Regions from separate parts of the Homo sapiens genome. Here region 2 is linked to region 1. Evidence: fine-mapped expression QTL. A gene starts in region 1. The other region holds a variant in brackets. All regions are shown on one strand. Distances are between the middles of the regions. Region 1 holds the start of LINC02207 (long intergenic non-protein coding RNA 2207). Region 2 overlaps LINC02207 (long intergenic non-protein coding RNA 2207).

The links. PIP is the estimated chance that this variant, and not a neighbour inherited with it, causes the effect. A credible set is the group of variants that fine-mapping cannot tell apart.
Region 2: its variant is the best candidate, but not a certain one, in a credible set for the expression of LINC02207 in whole blood (TOPMed, PIP 0.77).

What each region holds. Positions count from the first base shown.
Region 1 is chr15:93,854,188-93,858,592 of GRCh38, reverse strand. LINC02207 (long intergenic non-protein coding RNA 2207) reads right to left here and starts at 2,033. Exons shown (of 4, transcript NR_120321.1): 1 at 1,997-2,033.
Region 2 is chr15:93,869,818-93,874,222 of GRCh38, reverse strand. LINC02207 (long intergenic non-protein coding RNA 2207) reads right to left here. Exons shown (of 4, transcript NR_120321.1): 3 at 4,390-4,405. Among named protein-coding and RNA genes, the nearest start is that of LINC02207, 15 kb to the right of the region's middle. The variant A/T (reference allele first, on the strand shown) is at 1,949.

The DNA of each region.
Region 1 (4,405 bases):
AGTATGCCATTTTTTATATTTTATAGCATATTTTTACCGTACCTTTCTATGTTTAGATACACAAGTACCATTGTGTTACAATTGCCTACAGTATTCAGTACAGTAACAGACTGTACAGGTTTGTAGCCTAGGAGTAATTGGCTATTCCATACAGCCTAGGTACGGAGTAGGCTATGCCATCTAGATCTGTGTGAGTACATTCTGTGATGTTCACACCATTATGAAATCACCTGATGCACTTCTCAGAATGTATCCCCATCATTAAGCTAGAATAATATATATATATATGGATATATATATATATATATCCCATTATCTTTTGTCTCTACGCTCATTCAACTTGAACTGTTTCAAACTTTGGAGACTTACAATTATGCTGATTCCTTTATTTAATAAAAGAAAAAATTAAGCTCTCATGGCTCGTGGCTTTTCTTATTGCCACTGCATGGACTCTGAACCTCTGTCTCAGCCAGGCACGAGGAAGCAGAGAGGTGGTGAACTGAGAGCTGCAGGGTCTCACTGTTTTGTTCTAGATCAGCACTTTTTAAACTTTAGTGGGTGCAAATCACATGAGGATGTCATTAAAGTAAAGATTACAATATAGTATGTCTGGAATGAATCTTAAGATTCTGCCTTTTCAACAAGTTCCCAGCATATATGGTGTTGTTCTTCTGCAGACCCCGCTTTAAGAAAAAAAATTAGAAAGCTCTAGATCTTAATTCAAAACTCTTATTTTTTTCAACTTGGGGGTGGGAATGGTGGTAAGACAATTTGGCAAGATTTGGCAATAGGGACTGCTAGTATAATAGACTATTTCTCTCATCTATTCCCCTCTTCACCCCTCTTGACACACCCTGCCAGAATGCATGTGACCTTCCAGAAAGGAATTATGCTCAGCAAAATGCCCTGAGGTATTAAATAATGAACTAAAATATGACTCTTTTTTTTTTTTTCTGAGACAGAGTCTGGCCCTGTTGCCAGGCTGGAGTGCAGTGGCACCAGGACCAGGTTGGAGTGCAGTGGCGTGATCTCGGCTCACTGCAAACTCCGACTCCCTGGTTCAAGCAATTCTCCTGCCTCAGCCTCCCAAGTAGCTGAGATTACAGACACATGCCACCACGCCCAGCTAATTTTTGTATTTTTAGTACAGACGGGGTTTCACCGTGTTGGCCAGAATTGTCTCTATCTCCTGACCTCGTGATCCTCCCGCCTCGACCTCCCAATAAAATATGACTCTTAACAAATATAAAATGAATGTATGTAAAGATTTTCTTTAAGTAATGAGTGAACCAGTAAGATGTTACGATCAGTATGAGGGAGGATTCAAACAACACACACATCCGTGCAATCAGAAATGCTGAAATAAACAAACACAGAAGATGTCAATAGTTACTGGGCAATAATACATTTGATTCTACTGGACAAAGTTTATTTGCATTCCTAGGAAAAAGTCATTTGCATTCACATAAGCTTTCTACACATTACAGATTTATAAAATGGTTCAAAAGAAGTGCAGACCCCTATAGAATTAGGTAAAATGGAAAGGCAGCTAAAGAGGACACCTAGTAATTATTTTATCCATTTCAAAGTCTTTCCACAATTTTTCCTGACAGAGATAACACTTTAGGAAGAATATCCTAAGTTAATTGAGAAGCCATATGAGAAATAATATAACTATTGCCCCCAAACTAGCCCTGTCCTCTTATCCCCTCCTAACCACACACTAGCCGGCATCAGGAACCAGGACATAATCAGACAGCTCCTTTCCCGTCTCTCCTTTCCCAATCATACAATGCACATGCCACCTGTTCACCATTTTTTTCCACCCCTCACCATCCCATACCCACATAGATGTTCTCTTTCCCATTCTCCTAAACTTCCTCAAATATTCTTTCTAGGAAGGCTTATCTCAAATATCATCTCCTCATTGAATAACAATAATGATGATAATAAAAGCCACTAATTGATTCCTTAGCTCTTTAGCTCACCACCTCACCTTCACAACTATCCTCAGAGGTAAGCTGTTATCATTGCAATTTTACAGCTGGGGAAACCAGAGCTGAGAGAGCCCGAGCCTTTTTCATAAGGTCACAAAACTATTATGAGGTGGTAAATGCTTTACTACCATGAAATAAAAAGATTTCCTCTCTCTTAGAGCTTTAGCACTCTGTCCATGTGCTCACTTAGCTTTTTTATCACATACCACGTATGGCTGTTTGTCTTCTAGCTCTCCCATTTCTTCTTTATCATCTTTCTTTGCATAACCACAACCTCCCTGCCTCAAAGTTACCTGTGCCTCTGCTCCTCATGAGAAAGCAGATAGCATGTCCTATCCATGCATGGGTCCATATACAGGGTAAGCTTTTACTAAATAGAACTGAAAGGTGAGTTTTATGACAATATAAACACAAATATATTTATGTCATTATATTCTCTTTTGTACATTACCTGTAGCAAATTATCATGTAGGTATTCAATAATATTTTCTTCAAATTTGATCTCCAAGGGAAATTGGAAAAGAAAATCAGAATTTCTAAAACACAATTCCACAGGAAGAAACACTTTTTAAAAATATTTAATTTTAAAATTAAAGACAGGTTTAGCTGCAGGCAAAGTAATCAGCATGACGAATGAGGATGGGTGATTTGGTCTCCTACTCCAACTTTGCCGTCTGAGTTCCCTGGGCTCTTAGAGGCTCAGAGTATCCCAGGCTGGACGGAGTCTGATAAACTCCGTGAATGTGTGTGCACTGTAAGCTAACAATGGAAGCACTGGCGTGGTGTCTTAGAAAGTATTCCTAATATCAGTACCTCTTACCCTCAAAGGACTTGTTCAGAGCCAAACGCCAGGGACTTAGGTAGAGGAAACATTTGAGAGGAGGAGAGTTTTTATTAAGTTTCCAAACTCACTCTATGTATGTCAGGTAATTTGACCTCATGTGAGAGGCAGCTGGCTGTGGGAGAACTGAAGTTTGGGCTGGGCTTGAATATGTTTCCTTCATACGGTGTGACCTTCCCCAAGTTATGCAAATCTTTGAGTCCCAATCTTCATGCTTAAATGAAAATGATGCCTGCCTGTTACAATTGCTTAAGGAATTAAATGGAGGTTTTCTCTATTTGCACGTGTGTGCATGTCACAATACACACAGAGAGAAACCACCAGGCAATGAAGGCTGATTCCATCCCTCCCCTGGTTAGTTCATATGATTTCTGAGCCTGCCAGAATTCCTTCCAGTGAAATGAAACTAAGGGAGAGAAACATCCCAAGGCCTGGATGCCTGGAAAGATTTTACCTAATGAATTTTCAGTTTATTTGTTATAAAAGTGAATTTGGTCTGATTGAAACAAAGTATTCACAGCTTTTCTGTGCTTTAAAATGTCATTACAAAAATGCAATTCTTTTCAAATATCTATTTTTAAACTTTATTTTCTAACTTCAATCTCAGGCCTTGATAAAAAAAAAAAAAAAAAGATGCTTAGTAATGTTTTGCCTTAGGAAATATTTTAAAAAGTTACTACCATAGGTTTATTTGACATCCAAGGACACATATATAAATAATTCAGAAGGTGGAAGTTATGGCAGAGGTCCATTTGTGATTAATAAGCCTAGAGCCTTATCAATAACATAATTTGAAGACTTTCAGCAATCTTCTACCGAATGCCTCCTATTCTCAAAGTAAACACATTGATCATGTAAATAGTGCTCTTTTTCTTTTCTAACTTGAGTGTATTTTTCCTCGCATTCAATGCTTTGAAGAGTAATACCTTCAGCCATGTAACAGGAGTTACTTTCTCCTCCTCTCCCTCTCTTTATCACCCTCTCTATCTCAGCAGGTATCTACTGCAGCCCCTTATATCTTTAACGTATTTATAGAATTTAACCCATTTTCACTATCAGTTTGGCCACTTATTCTTTCATTGATGAATATTTATTGAATCTATACCATGTTCAGCCAGTCTCTAAGATAGTTGGAATCCATCAGGAAATGAAACCCAAACGCCTGCTACCATGGAGTCTACATTTCAGCAGAGGACAACAGGACAATATACTTAATAATCGAGTAAATTATTTTACTATGGGAGAAGGTGGTAAGTGCTGTGAGGGAATAAAGAAAAAGTGGAGCTGGATAAGGAAGAATAGGAGTGCTGAAGTAGGTGGCGATTCAAATATGGTGGTCAATGTGACATTTGAACAAAGACTTACAGAAGGTAACAGAGTTCACTATACAGATAGGTAGGGAAAAACATTCCAGGCTAAAGCAACAGCTATTTCAAAGGCCTGAGGCAAGAATTTCCTTGCATGTTGGAGGCGGGGAGAGGGTGCCACCATGTCTGGAGCCAAGCGACAATTGGAGAGAGTCCTGGGAGATAAAACAGAGAGGTCAATGGGCCAGACTATGTAGGGA
Region 2 (4,405 bases), 16 kb before region 1:
AAATTATTTCTACAAATAACTATATAGAGTTAAAGATTTCCAGGTAACAGAGAAACGAAAGACATCATGAGCAAGAGCCAACAAAAAAGAGAAGCTGACCCACAAAATATTTAAATTTTGTGTGATCAGTCTTTAAAATAAGTGATTGTACTATGTGCAGAGAAACAAAGGTAAGCTTGAAAATGTAACAGCAAACAAAAAATGATAAAATATAATATAGCATATTATAAACTAAAGAATGAAACTAAACTTCTAAGCCTAAGGTACAATAATCAAAATCAATTACTCAAAGAGTAGGTTTTACATTAGATTACATATAGCCATAAGGAAAATTTTAAACTAGAAGATAACTCAGAAGAAATCATCTAGAATATAGCATAAAAAGGACACAAAGGTGGAAAAATTAGAATAGTATGAAAAGATATAGTAGATTCCATGAGATCTAGCCTTTACTTGAAAAATTGTGGTCCCAGAAGAACAGAAAGTTAAAAATGAGGCAATATTTGAAGAGATAACAGCTCAGAGTTTTCCTTAACAAGGCAAAAGCTTCAACCTACAGATTCAAGAAACTCAGTGGTACCCAACAGGATAAATAAAAATAGATATTCAGCTAAATACATCAGAGTGAAACTGCTGAATATCAAGTCAAAGAGAAAATCTTAAAAGCAGCAGAAAATTTTTTTAAAAAGACATTACTTTTATTGAAACCATAGAATTACAACTGCTGTCTCAAAAGCAACAATAGCTGGAAAACAATGGAATGACATTTCCAAGGAAACAAAAGAAAATAATTGCTAAATTACTAGATCTAGGAAAATGCAGCTTAAAAATGAAGTTGAAACAAAGACATTTTCAGACAAACAATAATACAAGACTGCAGCAGACTGTACTAGACAATTAAGACAGGAGGCTTTGACATTAAAAAAAGTAATCCTGTTAAAAGACATGGGTTGATGGAAGAGATAAAGAGCAAAGGAAGATAAATTGGGATGGGAATAATTCCAAATGCAAATCAAACAATAATGTTTTATTTATATATGATTTTCTTTTCTATTTCTCTGATTACTAATAAGAATGAACATTTTTTGTGTGTGTGTTCATCACCATTCATGATGCTCCTTTAAGAAATGCCTACTCCTGACCTTTGCCTTCTTTTCTATTTGGTCATTTGTCTTTTCGTGATTTATCTGTTAGTTATTTATTTCATATAAATTATATCATTTTTAGTTATTTTTGCTGTGTTTTCATCTTAAAAGTTTTTATTTTTTATGAAGTTAAATGTATCAGTTTCCCTTTATAAATATAACTTTTACTCTAATGTTTAAGGAAACTTTTATATCTCAAAACTAAAAAGTAAAACTCAATGATGGTTTGATTTGCAGCATTAGAAAGGGGGGGTTGGAGATGGACTCTCAGTTGACAGCTTGTATAAGTGGATGGATGGTAAATCTACCCACTGAGAAAAAGGACACTACAACAGTACTAGGTTTTAGGGAAGGGGAGGAAGATTACAAATTTATTCTTGGCCATATTCAGTTTGAAATGCTTTTGAGTCTTCTAAGATTAATGCATCAAGAGGGAAAATGTTTACATGCATCTGGTGCCTCTACAAGGTTTCAGTGATGGAGATGTTATTTATTAATTATTTGTATGACAGGGGAAAATAAAGCCATGAGTGTAAATGAGCTCACCTAAAATGAGCGGAACAGTTGTTCTTAACTAAGGGTGATTCAAATGTCCCACGGAACATTTGATGATGTGTGTAGATATTTTTTTGTTGTCACAACTTGGAGGGGTGAGAGGGGAGTGCCTCTATCAGATAGAGGTCAGGGATTCTGCTAAACAACCTGCAGTACACAGGACAGCTACCATAATGAACCCCACTTCATAACAAGAAATTGTCCATTCCACAACATCGGTAGTGCCACAGTTGAAAAAGAGAGAACTC[A/T]AGAATCATCTGGGTGTTAGGTTTCTGTGCTCCAGGTTGGCTAACTGAGAGGTGAGAGAGCAGAGAGAAGAGGGCACAGGCCGTGTTTTGAACAGCATTTGGTGGCTGTGTAGAAGACGGCAAATTTTCTAACGACATTGAGGAGGAGCAATTACTAATTTAGGAGGAAAACCAGGAGTGTTAAGTCACGGAAACCAGAAACCAAAGAGAGAAAGTGAGCAGGGATGTCAAATTCTAGTGAGTATATTCAAGTTAGGAATAAAAAGTATCAATCAGACAGAGATCATGTAAATGAAGGTTTTGATGGCCTTACCAAGAGCTGTTTCAGTGGCGTGATAAGGGCAAGAAGGGAGCAAAGTCAGATCAGAAGGTCTTGAGGATTGAGTGGGAGATACAGAAATGAAATTAGCAAGAATAAGTAGCTCTTTCAAGATATTTGACTGTGAATGAAAGAAGAAACAGAGGTGTGAAGGCTTGGTAGAATAGTGAGATTTCATTTCTTTTCTTTTTTTTTTTTTTTTTTTAAGGAGAGATTTAAGAATACTTAAAAGCCAATGGACAAAAATAACAAATGCTGGCAAGGATGCAGAGAAAAGGGAACTCTTGTACACTGTTGTGTAATGTAAATCAGTACAGCCATTGGAAAACCATATAGAGTTTCTTCAAGAAATGAAAAAATAGAACTACCACACAGTCCAGTAATCCCATCACTGGGAATTGATCCAAAGGAAAGGAAATCAGTACATCACAGGGATGCCTGCACTTCCTTGTTTATTGCAGCACTATTCACAATAGTCAAGATAGGGAATCAGCCTGTGTCCATCCATGGATGAATAGATAAAGAAAATGTGAGTCGTACGCACAATGGAATACAATTCATCCATTAAAAAGATGAAATCTTCTTATTTGCAGCAACATAGATGGAACTGGAGGTCACTATGTTAAGTGAAATAAGCCAGGCACAGAAAGACAAATATTACATGTCCTTACTCATAATGTAGGAGCTAAAAAGTTGATCTCATGGAGGTAGAGAGGAAAATGATAGTTACCAGAGGCTGTGGTAGGAGAGATGGATGTGGTGAGAGGGATGAAGCAAGGTTTGTTAATGGGTACAAAAATACAATTTGATGGAAGGGATAGTTCTAGTGTTCAATAGCACAGTAGGGTGACTCTAATTAACAACATATCTTATATTTTAAAATAGCTAGAAGAGAAGACTTGAAATGTTCTTAACAAAGAAATGGTAAATGTTTGAGGTGATGGCTATCCTAAATACTCCAATTGATCATTACACATTGTATGCATGTATCAAAACACTGCATGTACCCCATAATATGTACAAATATTATGTATTGATACAAATCATAAAAATAAAAAAAATTAAATAGAAGCAGGGCTACCCAGGTGCCACCATGCTTGAGAGGCCATCTGTAGGTACCGTGGCCAGTGACCCCAGCTGAGGCCATCCCCATTAAGACATCAGCCATGTGAGCAGAGCCATGGCAGACCTCCCAGCCTGACCATCTGCCCGCTGAATTCCATGGAGTGACCTTAGTCAAAAGAGGTGGAAAAGAAGACTTGGCCAACCAAAAGGAGCTTGAATTTCTGACCACAGAATTCCTGACCATAAAATTATGAGCTCTAATAAAATGTTGTTTTTAAAGGCAAACAAACAATGACAAAGGCCAATGGAGTAGATCCAAATGAGGGAGAATGAGAGAAATGTACTAGAGAGATCCTGACAGTGCATGGATGTGGAGGATGGGAGAATTCAAGGGCCAGAAGGAAAAGATGACTTTAGATAGGAGGAGAAATGGCTCTGCCAGTGTAATAGGGAGAGAGAAGATGGAATGTGTTATGTGTAGGTGGATGTGTGTGTAGGTTTAGGATCGATACTTCCAATCTAACAGCTTCCACTTTTAATCTAAAGTAGGAGGCAAGTTCAACTGCTGAGAATTGGGAAAGAAGTGTGGAATGAGACTGTACAGAGTGGAGATAGTTTTTAATATGCCTTGTGTTTGGTAGAATAGTCAGTGATAAAAGAAAGGTAACAAGATAACACGATCCTCCATCTCTGTCTAATTTCAGTCACCATCTCTCCCTCACTCTCTCCCATTTCCTCTCTCCCTTCTTTCTCCCTCCTTCCCTTTTCCCTCTCCCTCTCTGTCTCACCTCTCAACCAACCTGGAGCACAAATACCTAACAGCCAGGTGATTCTTGAGTTCTCTCTTAAACATCAAGTGTTAATAGATTTTTCATCCCACACAGGACATAGTTACACAGAAGACATTTCAGTGGAACACTTATTCTCCGATTTTTCTGCCTTAGGACCACATCTTTACATTTTAAGTTTCTAACTTGTTATACAGTCATCAGAAATATGTTCAAATGAATCCTCTATAAAACTCACTATTTTAGACCATCGCTACTCCATAAAGTACCTGAAATGAATGATAA